Linked DNA regions of Homo sapiens. The protein of the gene in region 1 purifies or fractionates together with the protein of each later gene. This does not show direct contact. Each region holds a gene or a part of one and is shown in the gene's direction. Other genes may lie near its edges.

Region 1 (3,500 bases):
AGAAGATATGGGGCAGTAAATTTTCAGGTCTTAAATTGTACCAGGAGGAGTCTTGTGCTGCCAGAGGGCATGACTTAGTAGTCTAATTAAGTGTGCAATGCCTGGCCTCCCAAGTCCTTAGTTAACATCTCTAGTAGCCCAGGGGCTGGGAAAGAAAATGACGCATGGTCCTCTGGCCAGCCCTGCATTGACTGTCTTACTCATGTAAATGAGGGGGCATCCTGGTGCAGATAACGGCTTTTATTTCTCTTTGGCTTCGGGTGTGTCATAGTTGGGGGTGTTTTATTACATCCATTTATTGGATTCATCCACCAAATATCTTTGCTTCCCAATTGTTTTGTAAAAACAGATTCATAGTAAGTTTAATCTGCCTTCTATCATAAAAACTGTAGTTGATGATGAGAGGAAGTGGCCCAGAAACACAGGCAGCCAGAGGGGAAACTGGAATTTGAAGACTTAAAACAAAAACAGGAAAAAATAACTTTCTGTAAGACTTCTCAGTGCTGTTAGTTTTGTCTTTTAATTAGAAAAAAGTTCCATGGTTTCTATTTCTTGGTCCTTCACATCTCTAAATGAATCAGACCCACAAGTGAATGGCACATTTGTTCCCTGGCCTTCTCTGATCTGGACACACTCAGGCTCCACTTGAGTGAGCCCAGACAGGTACCCTCCAGGTCCTAGCTACAGATGCGCTCCGTGGGCAGACGGCATTCAGCACCTGCCAGCGAGGGCTTCAGACGCAGATATCCCTATTTGTAACCATTCAGACCTTCATCAGAGCATCAGAAAGCAGGGGCTGGGCCATCTCAATGCAGGCTTTGTGGAGCTAAGATTTCATGGGGCACCCTTGGCCTTTCTGGAGGGTGGACACAGGAACAAGCAGGTGGGGACGTGTTTCTTGGCTTTGGTGAGGCTCTTGCTGAAAGTCTTATTCTTTGCATGGCTCCAGGCTTACCGAGATCACAGACGGGCATTTGAATTTCAGATTCATGTTCTTTCCCTTTTCGGTCGTTGAAGACGGTGACACTTTGTGTTTTTCTTTCTGCCTTTGTGCTGCTGAAAACGTGGGGACAGGCTGGGAGTGGGTGTGTTGTCTTAATCAGGCCGTCTCGTTGTCTGGTACCGTCTGTCCTCCTGTTTCCTTTAGGTGGTAGCAGCCTCTGCTGAGTGGTTTGTGTGAGTTCGCACTGAATCCTACCACAATCCTTACTCAGATGAGGGCTCTGAGATTCCACCTAACGGGAGACGAGATGGCAGCTGCTGACATTCTGCCCTGTCTGCAAGCTCTCCTAGCTCTTCCAGCTCTCCCATCTCTGCAAACTCCGACAGCAGTTGCTCTTCCTCTGAGGAAGCTGAGCGACTGCATCATCCCCCGACCACGTCGCCTCTGCTCAGCCCTCTTAATGGCCGTCATTCCAAGGGAAAGGCAGGAGCCAGGAGCCTCTGGGATGCAGCCCCTTGGTTACAGTGTCTGCTTTCAGCTTTGCCTCTGCTTCTCCAGGGTCTTTCTCAGGCAGTTAACCCAATATTTATCAACTCTCTCCCTAGGCCCAGCACTTGGCAGAATTTTTTTCTATTTTGTAAAAGTATGAGATATTCCTTGCTGTTTAGTATTTGACAGTGTGGCTGGAGAAGTAAAGATGGACAGACGGACCCCTCCCACCCACCCCTCCTTGCTGACCACTTGTCCCGTGCCTTTCCAGTTCTGTCAGGCCAAGCAGAAGGCAGCCTTGCTGGAGCTGCTGCATGAACTCTACAATTTCCTGGCCATCCAAGCTGGTGAGTAAGTCACGTAAGTCCTGAGATTCCTCTTGTGAGAGCTATGGGCGGCTGACCCGGTTCATCAGGCTTAGTTACACTGCTGCTGGCCAGCGAGACACTCCCTGGTTGTCTCTCAGAAGGCATATTCAGAAGCCGAGTCTCACCTTCTCGCCTCCTCACTCAGGCACATCTTTTATAAGCCTTGTGTTTGAACAAAACATATTTGATTCTTGCTCCTCTTTAAGGGAGGTCCTGGCATGTGAACAGGCCTTCCTGCAGCTGTTCTTCCTTCTTGGGGATGCCCACTACCTAATGCTTTGGGGGTCTCTGTTGGCATGGGAAGGGGCCAAGCCCCAGGTGTTGTCAGGATCTGTGTCCTTCACCCTAGAGGGACCCTCTGAACCAGGTGGTTGGCTGGGCCCGGGAGAGGCCTCTTGCCTGTGCAAGTAGCAGATAGTCTGTGTAGTGGGCCCTGGTGTCACATCTGGTCCTGATCACCATGTGGCTGTGGGACCTCGGACAAAGTCCCTGATCCTCTCAGGGTCTTCATCTCCCTGTCTGACCAAGGGCTCTTGGGTCTGTCTGTTCTCTACAAATGAGAGTCAAGTGCTGTCCTCTAAAGGAGGGCATTCTCAGCACCTCTGTGAAATGCCCCTGAAAATGCATCCAGAAGATGCATCCCCTACTGTTTTATTTGGTGAAGTTATTCCTTGAGGCCAGAGATACCACCTGCATTATTATGTCCTGCCCGACGCCTGGCATCCAGGAGGCTCTCAAAATCACTTGCAGTTGACATAGGTGAATATCAGCATGTGCGCCTTGTGTTAAATGCGCTGGACACAAGAACCAGACAGAGCAGTTCTATCTTAAGGGATATTCAAGAGGCGCCTCTTACCTGTGGGGTCAGAGGACAGGTCTTAGGATTGTGAGGTCAACCCTTGTCTAAGGTTTCACTGGGAAATTAGGGTCGGGTGGACTTCTCCTGGGCCCTCAGTCCTCAGGGTCAATCTCATGAGCATCAGCTCTTCTGCCTCCTCCCTCTTGAAAGTGAGAGATGAGATGGTAGGGGAGGCATCCATGAGCACTTGGAGGAGAAACAGGTACTGGGGCTCCTGCTCACAGCATCATAGGAATTCCTCTGTACGGCCCAGGTGCTTGGGATGTCAATTCTGACCTAAGAGAGTGTTCCAAACCTTTGTGTCTCAAATGTGGTCCAAGGACCCATAGCATCTGCATCACGTGGGAGCTCACTAGAAATTCAGAATCTCAGGTCTCATGCCAAACCCAGTGAATCAGAGTCTGTATCTTAAGATCCCCAGGGGATTTGAGTGCACCCTAAAGTTGAGAAGCACTGCTCGAAATTGGGTCCTAGTAGATATTTCTCCTCCATCCTACCCTCCATATGTGGTCTTGCCTTATGCCCTCAAGGGCCCTGGCACCTGTTGCCCTCCGACAAGCCTGGGGGGCCGCCTTGAAGGTACATATCTCATTGAGACAGGAGTGTGCCTCACAGAGGCTCCCTAGTAGTCCTCAACCCCTTCCATGCCTCTCCTGTTAGGGATCCGCTGTGGGCTGGGCACTGTGCAGGCCCTTGCAGTGAGATGACTCAGCTCCAGGTCCTGCCTGCAGGGCCCAACCCCGGCTTGGGGTCTACTGGAAGAGACAGGCCACCTACCTCCCTGACCACTGGGTGATATAAAATGTGATTAGACAAGAACCAAGAGGCCAGAAGTTCTGGG
Region 2 (3,730 bases), on another chromosome or scaffold:
ACTCATTCTGAAGATTAGGACAAATCTCCATTGACTTAGCAGATTTAAATTTAGATGTGTACAAATTGCCTGGGTCAAAGGCAGCTAAGCCATTTAAATGTTATATCTAGTTTCATTGGTTTCAGTGTCCAGCAAGAGTGCCTTGCAGTGAATTTTAGGTATCCATGATTCTTTGGTTATTTTGGTTTCCCCTGTGGAGCTTTTCTTGGTTTCTAGGAAACTGGAAACTTGCTTATTTGAATTTCTAGGATGATTTTTTTCATTTTTAGGTGAATGGAATCAGTGAAAATTCATCCTGACTCCCTTGATGTTTCTTTTTAAATAATCAGAAGAGCATGCAACATATATAAAATAAAAATACTTTCAACAGGTCACCAATAATATATAAGAAGTCCCAGGGAAATGGAAACAATTTTGAAATATGCTATCCAGCTGTGGCATTATCTTAAATTTTTATTCAAGTTACAGCTTTTTAATAAATGCTAAAATATAAAAGCTGCCCTGTGCTGATTAGACATATTTAATCAGCATATTTTCTTTGTTTTTAATGTTCTGCCAGTGATGTCCAATTTTATACTTTAATCCTTGCTTGTTTTAAATAGTAAAAAATATGTTTAGTCTGTGGTAAGGTACATAAGTTGTTTCTTCTCCAGAGTGAAGTCACCCTGCTGAGAAATGAAGTGGCACAGCTGAAACAGCTTCTTCTGGCTCATAAAGATTGCCCTGTAACCGCCATGCAGAAGAAATCTGGCTATCATAGTGAGTAATGTTCCATTACCTATAGCCTTAGGCTACGTCAGTGAAATACCGTCAGAGTGAACTGAGCTGCTACTTTAAAAATGGAGACTGTGCTTCTAATATTCAAGATTAAATATCAGAATTTCTGTAAGGTTATTATAGAATGCAGTAGAGAGGTATAATTTTTTAGAATCTAGAGAGTTTGAGTTTTCCTGTTTCTAGCTTTTTTCCTAAGCGTTACTATAGATCAACAAAATGGATTAGCTAATAATTTAAAATATACTGTAAGTACTTGATGATATTTTGTTCATCTTCTCAGGATAACACTTTGTCTTAGATTGACAGGGTGAAACACTACTTTTTTCCCAGCCTCCGTTCATTAATGATGATATTTTTCTTTTTAAAATCAGCTGACTGCCTTTAACAATATATGATATCCCTTTAAGGTATCAGATCCTATTGTTCTTTCTTAGATAATGTCAGCATTGTGTAACGTTTTTATTGTTGTAAACCTTTATATTGAGATATCTAGTTAGTTTATAAAAATGTTAAAACGGGAACAGTAGTTAAATTATCTGCTTGTAAATTTCCTGCTAAATGTTTTCCCAAAGAATGAGATTCTTTTGTTTTCAGCATTTTAAAGGTTAATTGTGCCTTTTCCTTTTTGTAATGTCCTTCTTTTTTGATAAGATGCACAGTGTTGGAACCAGCTGTTACTCTTGAATAAATGGCCAATTTTGTCCATAGTATACAAATTTGTAACAAACAACAGAGTTGGGAATGCATTAGGCAACATTTATAATATATAACCCACAGTTTTAGTCTTTATGATTTAGTGATATTTCAGGATATTAGTAAATGTGAAGATTGTTTCAACCATATGTATCCACTTCATTTTAATTTGCCAGTGTCAGTAATTCAAAAGAAAGAAACATTTTGTATTGGATGCAAACAGTTCCTCAGGTGCTCACGATAAAACTTAATGGCCACCATCTTTACTTGTAGTCATTATAAGCAGTTTCATCAGAATGGGCAATATTTTTTAATTTAAAAGATTCCGTAGATTTAGCTACTCTCAATTGCCATATATATTTAGAACGCTGATTTTTGTCAGTTTTGAGCATATAAATCTTGCTTATTTGATATCTAGTAATTTTGACAGGATGGTGAAACACATTGGAGTAAATTGGAACCATATAGAAATATGTTTGGGATTTATATTAACAATGATTGCTTCAGGGATGAGGCCATTATGGTTCCCATCTGACTTAACAACATAATTTCCTATAGAAGCTACTAGTTCAGCATTTATGCATACGTGATTTTCTTAACAAGAAATCTCTCTTGGATTTTCATAGTTTAAAAGGAAATAAATTGTTTTATAAAATTAAAAGGAAATTAACTGTTCTCTTAAATTGTATCCAATTCAGAATTACCTGTAATTTTTAAATCTTTGATAATTTATTAGATAATCCCAACAGTTTTGACTCTATTATCCAGGCAATGTATGCTCAGCAGATGCAAACCAGTTATTCATTTGACAATTGATTTACAAGATATCTTAAGTGTATAGATGCGTAGGTTTATATACTGTATACTTAAATGACTGAAAATCTAGATTAATACATTTTTAGTACATAGAGTACTAAGTTATGAGAATATAAGAAATGAATAGGATATGTTTGTTGTTTGGAAATAATCCTATCTTTATTCCTGTCTAGTCATGTAGATAATCAAATTAACTGAAATATAGTTCTACCATAAAATTAATTCTCTTCAGATCTTGGGAGATAATTGGATTTTGTAGAAATTTTCAGGTAATTTATATTTTCAAGTTTGAAATCTTTGAAATAAGTCTGACTTCTCTGTTGTGTAGTAGTAAAAATAGATACAGAAATTGACTAAGTGAATACCTTTGAAAAATTTACACTCTTCATTATGTTGTAGCACACAGCTCTTGCTAACAGTGGTGAGTTGTAATACTAGCTAAATCTTTAAAAACATTTGGGAATCAAAACTAAGATTTAGTAGAAATTAAGGAATGTTACAAAATCTTTCAAGTAAAGGTGGAAGTACTAAGTCACAGCCATAGGGTCTGTCCCGCCCAGTTTTAGCACTGAAAGTCCTACTTCCTAAGAAGACCCCTCAGTCGTGGGAAAACCATGACAGTTAGTCACCCCAACAGTTAAGTAATATAAAACCTGAATGAAAATACTAAGAGTACATTTTAAATATTTGGGTTCCATGAAAAATAAAGCACAAAAGTGATCTTATTGCCATGAATTCACATTCTTTAGATCTGGGCATAATTAAAGTTGTATTATAATTGTCTCTATAATTATAAATGGGAAGAAAAGCTTCTTGGGGACTAATCAACCACAAATACTTTTATTACTGAAAATATGTATAGGCCAGGCACTGTGGCTCATCCCTTGTAAGCCCAACACTTTGGGAGGCCAAGGCGGGAAGATTGTTTGAACCCATGAGTTCAAGACCAGTCTGGGTGAAATAGCGGGACCCCATCTCTACAAAAAATAAAGTTTAAAAAAGCCAGGCATTTTGGCACACACCTATAGTCCCAGCTACTTGGGAGGCTGAGGCAAGAGGATCACTTGAGCCCAAGAGTTCAAGGCTGCAGTGAGCTGTGATCGTGCCATAGCACTCCAGCCTGGGCGACAGGGAGACCCTATCTCAAATAAGGAAAAGAAACTTGTGGACATAGGTAGAGAACTTTCAAGATTACTGAATTGCCAAACAGCTGGTTTCTTTTAGCTTAGGTAGAGCTGGAAGTGGCTCTTTGAGTACAGCATGGTTTTCTGTATCTCTCTAGTGCTTGTGATTACACCAGTCATTTTCTCCCCTCACCTAGAACTGGACATAGGTGCAAATATATCACATTGTAAAGGTATTTGATGTGTATGTAAGGTTTATAATTACATAATTGTGAGTACCTGATTCTTTGTACTGCTTAAAGATTTGCTTTACCTAATTC
Region 3 (3,730 bases), on another chromosome or scaffold:
AAAGTAATGAGCAAATCCATTACTCCCAAAAGTTTTTTCACCCCTTTTTATAATTCCTTCCTGGTACCACCTCCCACAGGCAATCATTGACTGATTTACTTTCAGTTAACTACAAATTACCTTGCATTTTCTAAAATTTTATATAAATAGAATCATATAGTAAGTACTTCTGTTGCCTGGCTCCTATTACTCAGAGTAATTGTTGATATTTATCCATGGTGAAGCATGTGTCAGAGTTTATTCCTTTTTATTGCTAAGCAGTGTTCCATTGTGTATCTGTTTTACTACAGTTTGTCCATTCACCTGTTGGTGGACCCTGGGTTGTTTCTGGTTTTGGGCTCTACACCTAGAAGCTGCTATGAACATTTGTGTACAAGTTTTGGTATTGTTAAAGTATAAACTGAGGCAGAATAAAATTTTAAAGAGTTTTGTCTGAGCAAACAGCAATTCATGAATCAGACAGCAACAAATCAAAAGTGATTTGGGACTCCACCAAAGGAATGCAAGTGGAAGACTTCTATAGGATGAACAAGGAAACAAGGCAAAGAAAATATTTGATTAATTATATTTATATAGTTGCCTTGTTTAGTCCATCCTATTGGAAAGTCCCTAGTTATGTAAGTTAGTTGATGGCTTCTAATTGGCGTAGCCTAAGTTTGTTTGTTTCTTTTTTTTTTTTTTTTTTTTTTTTAAGAGACAGGGCTAGAGTGCTTTGGTGCGATCGTAGCTCACTGCAGCTTTGAACTCCTGGGCTCAAGTGATCCTCCCACCTCAGCCTCTCAAGTAACCAGGGCAACATGAACTACAGACATGCATCGCCACGCCTGGCTAATTTTTTAATTTCTTATAGAGGCAAGGTCTCGCTAGCTATATTGCCCAGGCTGATCTCAAATTCTGGCCTCAAGTGATCCTCCTGCTTCAACCTCCCAAGGTGCTTACAGGCATGAGCCACCATGCCCAGCCTGATTTTTCTTTAATATAGGCACAGACAAAAAATAACCAAAGTTTACATTTGCAAACAGCCCAAATTAAGTTTTGCTTCTATTGCTTATATTTGCAAGGTCAAGGTTGTTTTAATGGCTTAACTGGCTTTGTCCAGGGGATTTACAGACCTGGTCTCCATCTTATTTTAATAGTATGAATATGTGCTTTCATTTCTTTTAGGTAAATATCTAGGAATGGAATGGCTGGATCATATGAGTAGGCTTACTCACTTATTAAGAAACTTGGCCTGGACTACATAGCAAGACTCTCTCTCTAAAAAAAGATTTTTTTTTAATTAGCCAAGTGTATTAGTCTGGGTTCTCTAGAGGGACAGAACTAAGAGGATATATGTATATATGAAAGGGAGTTTATTAAGGAGAATTGACTCACACCATCACAAGGTGAAGTCCCATGATAGGTCATCAGCAAGTTGAGGAGCAAGGAAGCCAGTGGTGGATCAGTACGAGTCCCAAAAGTAGGGAAGCTAACAGTGCAGCCTTCAGTCTGTGCAGCCAAAGGCCCAAGAGCCCCTGGAAAACCACTGGTGTAAGTCCAAGAGTCCAAAAGCTAAAGAACTTGGAGTCTGATGTTCTAGGTCAGGAAGCATCCAGCATGGGAGAAAGATGAAGTCCATAAGACTCAGCAAGTCAGCCCTTCCATCTTCTCCTGCCTGCTTTATTCTACCCCCGCTGGCAGCTGAGTAGATGGTGCCCAACCAGATTGAGTGTGGGTCTACCCCTCCCAGTCCACTGACTCAAATGTTAATTTCCTTTGGCAACACCCTCACAGACACACCCATGAACAATACTTTGTATCCTTCAGTTCAGTCAAGTTGACACTCAATATTAGCCATCCCACCAGGTGTAGTGGCTCCCACTTGTAGCCCCAGATACTCGGGAAGCTGAGGCAGGAGGATCACTTGAGCCCAGGAGTTAGGCTACATTGAGCTATAATATGATAGAGGCACTGCGCTACAGCTCTGGTAACAGAGCAAGATGCTGTCTTTTTTTTTTTTTTAATAAGAAAATAATCTAACTTGTTAAGTTCATAACTTATTAACAAAACTATTTTATATTCCCATCAGCAGTGTATGAAAGTTCTAGTCCTTCCACGTTAACAACACTTGGTATGGTCATTCTTTTTAATGTTAGCCATTCTATTTTTAGCCCTTCTGTGTAGTGGTGTCTTATTATGGTTTGATTTGCATTTCCCTAATGACTAACAATGTTGAGCATCTTTTTTTTTTTTTTTTTTTTTTTTTTGTGGAGACGGGAGTCTCGCTCTGTCGCCCAGGCTGGAGTGCAGTGGCGGGATCTCGGCTCACTGCAAGCTCCGCCTCCCGGGTTCACGCCATTCTCCTGCCTCAGCCTCCCAAGTAGCTGGGACTACAGGCGCCCGCCACTACGCCCGGCTAATTTTTTGTATTTTTAGTAGAGACGGGGTTTCACCGTTTTAGCCGGGATGGTCTCGATCTCCTGACCTCGTGATCCGCCCGCCTCGGCCTCCCAAAGTGCTGGGATTACAGGCGTGAGCCACCGCGCCCGGCCGAGCATCTTTTTCAAGTGTTTATTTGAAGGGTTCAGGCCTTTTCCCACATTTTAATTGAGTTGTGTTTGTTATTATTTCATTTTGATCATTTTAAAATATATTCTTGGTACAAGTCCTTTATAAGACGCATGCTTTGCCCATATTTTCTCCAGGTCCATCACTTGTCTTCTCATTCTCTTAACAATGTCTTTGAAAGAGCACAGATTGCTAATTTTGATGAAATTCAATTTATCATTTATGCTATTGAATATCATATCTAAGAAATCTTTGCCTAACTCAGAGTGACAAAGATTTTATCCTATGCTTGCTTTTGGTTTTTTTCCATTTAGGTCTATGATTCACCTTGAATTACATGCTAGTGGATGTGGAGTGGTATCTAATTGTGCTTTTGATTTGCATTTCCTTTTTGGCTAATGGTGTTGAGCATCTTTTCATGTATTTATATAGGCCATTTATATATCTTCTTTAGAGAAATGTCTGTTCAGATCTTTTGCTTGTCGAGTTATCTTTTTTTTTTTTTTTTTTTGCTTTTTAAAGTAAGACAGACAAATGATTTACAAATGTTCTCTAATTGTATGGGTTATTTCTTCACTTTCTTGTTGATGTCCTTTGCAACACAAGTTTTTTTATTTTGATGAGGTCCAGTTAATATTTGTTTTGTCTTTGGTGTCATATCTAAGAAGCTGTTGCCTGATCCAAGGTCACAAATATTTACACATAGGTTTTGTTCTAAGAGTTTTCTAGTTTTGACTCTTATATTCAGATATTTGACCCATTTTGAGATAATTTTTGAATGTGGTGTGAAGTAGGAGTCTAGTTTCATTCTTTTGCCTGTAAATATCCAGTTGTCCCAGTACTATTTATTGAAAAAACTATTCTTTCTCCCATTGAACTGCCTTGCTATTCTTGTTGAAAATCAACTAACCATAAATGTGATGATTTATTTTTGGGCTTTAAGTTCCATTCCATTGACTATATGTCTATTTCTATGCCATACCACATTGTCTTAATTACCTGGGGCTCTGTAGTAATTTTTGGAATTGGGAAGTGTTTTCCTTCAATTTCATTTTTCTTGTTCAATATTATTTGGGTTATTCTGGGTTTCTTGAATTTGTATAAATTTTAAGATCAGCTTGCCAATTTCTGCAAGAAGTCCACTGGGATTCTTGAAGAGGATTGTGTTTAATCTGTACATTAA

The links.
Region 2: the proteins of LEMD2 (region 1) and ATF2 purify together in Homo sapiens (co-immunoprecipitation; one large-scale study listed by IntAct). This does not show direct contact.
Region 3: the proteins of LEMD2 (region 1) and CSGALNACT2 purify together in Homo sapiens (co-immunoprecipitation; one large-scale study listed by IntAct). This does not show direct contact.

What each region holds. Positions count from the first base shown.
Region 1 is NC_000006.12:33,782,631-33,786,130, reverse strand, and holds part of LEMD2 (LEM domain-containing protein 2), read left to right. Parts: intron 1-1,611; coding exon of another isoform or gene 1,612-1,638; exon of another isoform or gene 1,639-1,670; intron 1,671-1,703; coding exon 1,704-1,779; intron 1,780-3,500. UniProt on the Homo sapiens protein: Nuclear lamina-associated inner nuclear membrane protein that is involved in nuclear structure organization, maintenance of nuclear envelope (NE) integrity and NE reformation after mitosis.
Region 2 is NC_000002.12:175,077,689-175,081,418, reverse strand, and holds part of ATF2 (cyclic AMP-dependent transcription factor ATF-2), read left to right. Parts: intron 1-653; coding exon 654-759; intron 760-3,730. UniProt on the Homo sapiens protein: Transcriptional activator which regulates the transcription of various genes, including those involved in anti-apoptosis, cell growth, and DNA damage response.
Region 3 is NC_000010.11:43,144,744-43,148,473, forward strand, and holds part of CSGALNACT2 (chondroitin sulfate N-acetylgalactosaminyltransferase 2), read left to right. Parts: intron 1-3,730. UniProt on the Homo sapiens protein: Transfers 1,4-N-acetylgalactosamine (GalNAc) from UDP-GalNAc to the non-reducing end of glucuronic acid (GlcUA). Required for addition of the first GalNAc to the core tetrasaccharide linker and for elongation of chondroitin chains.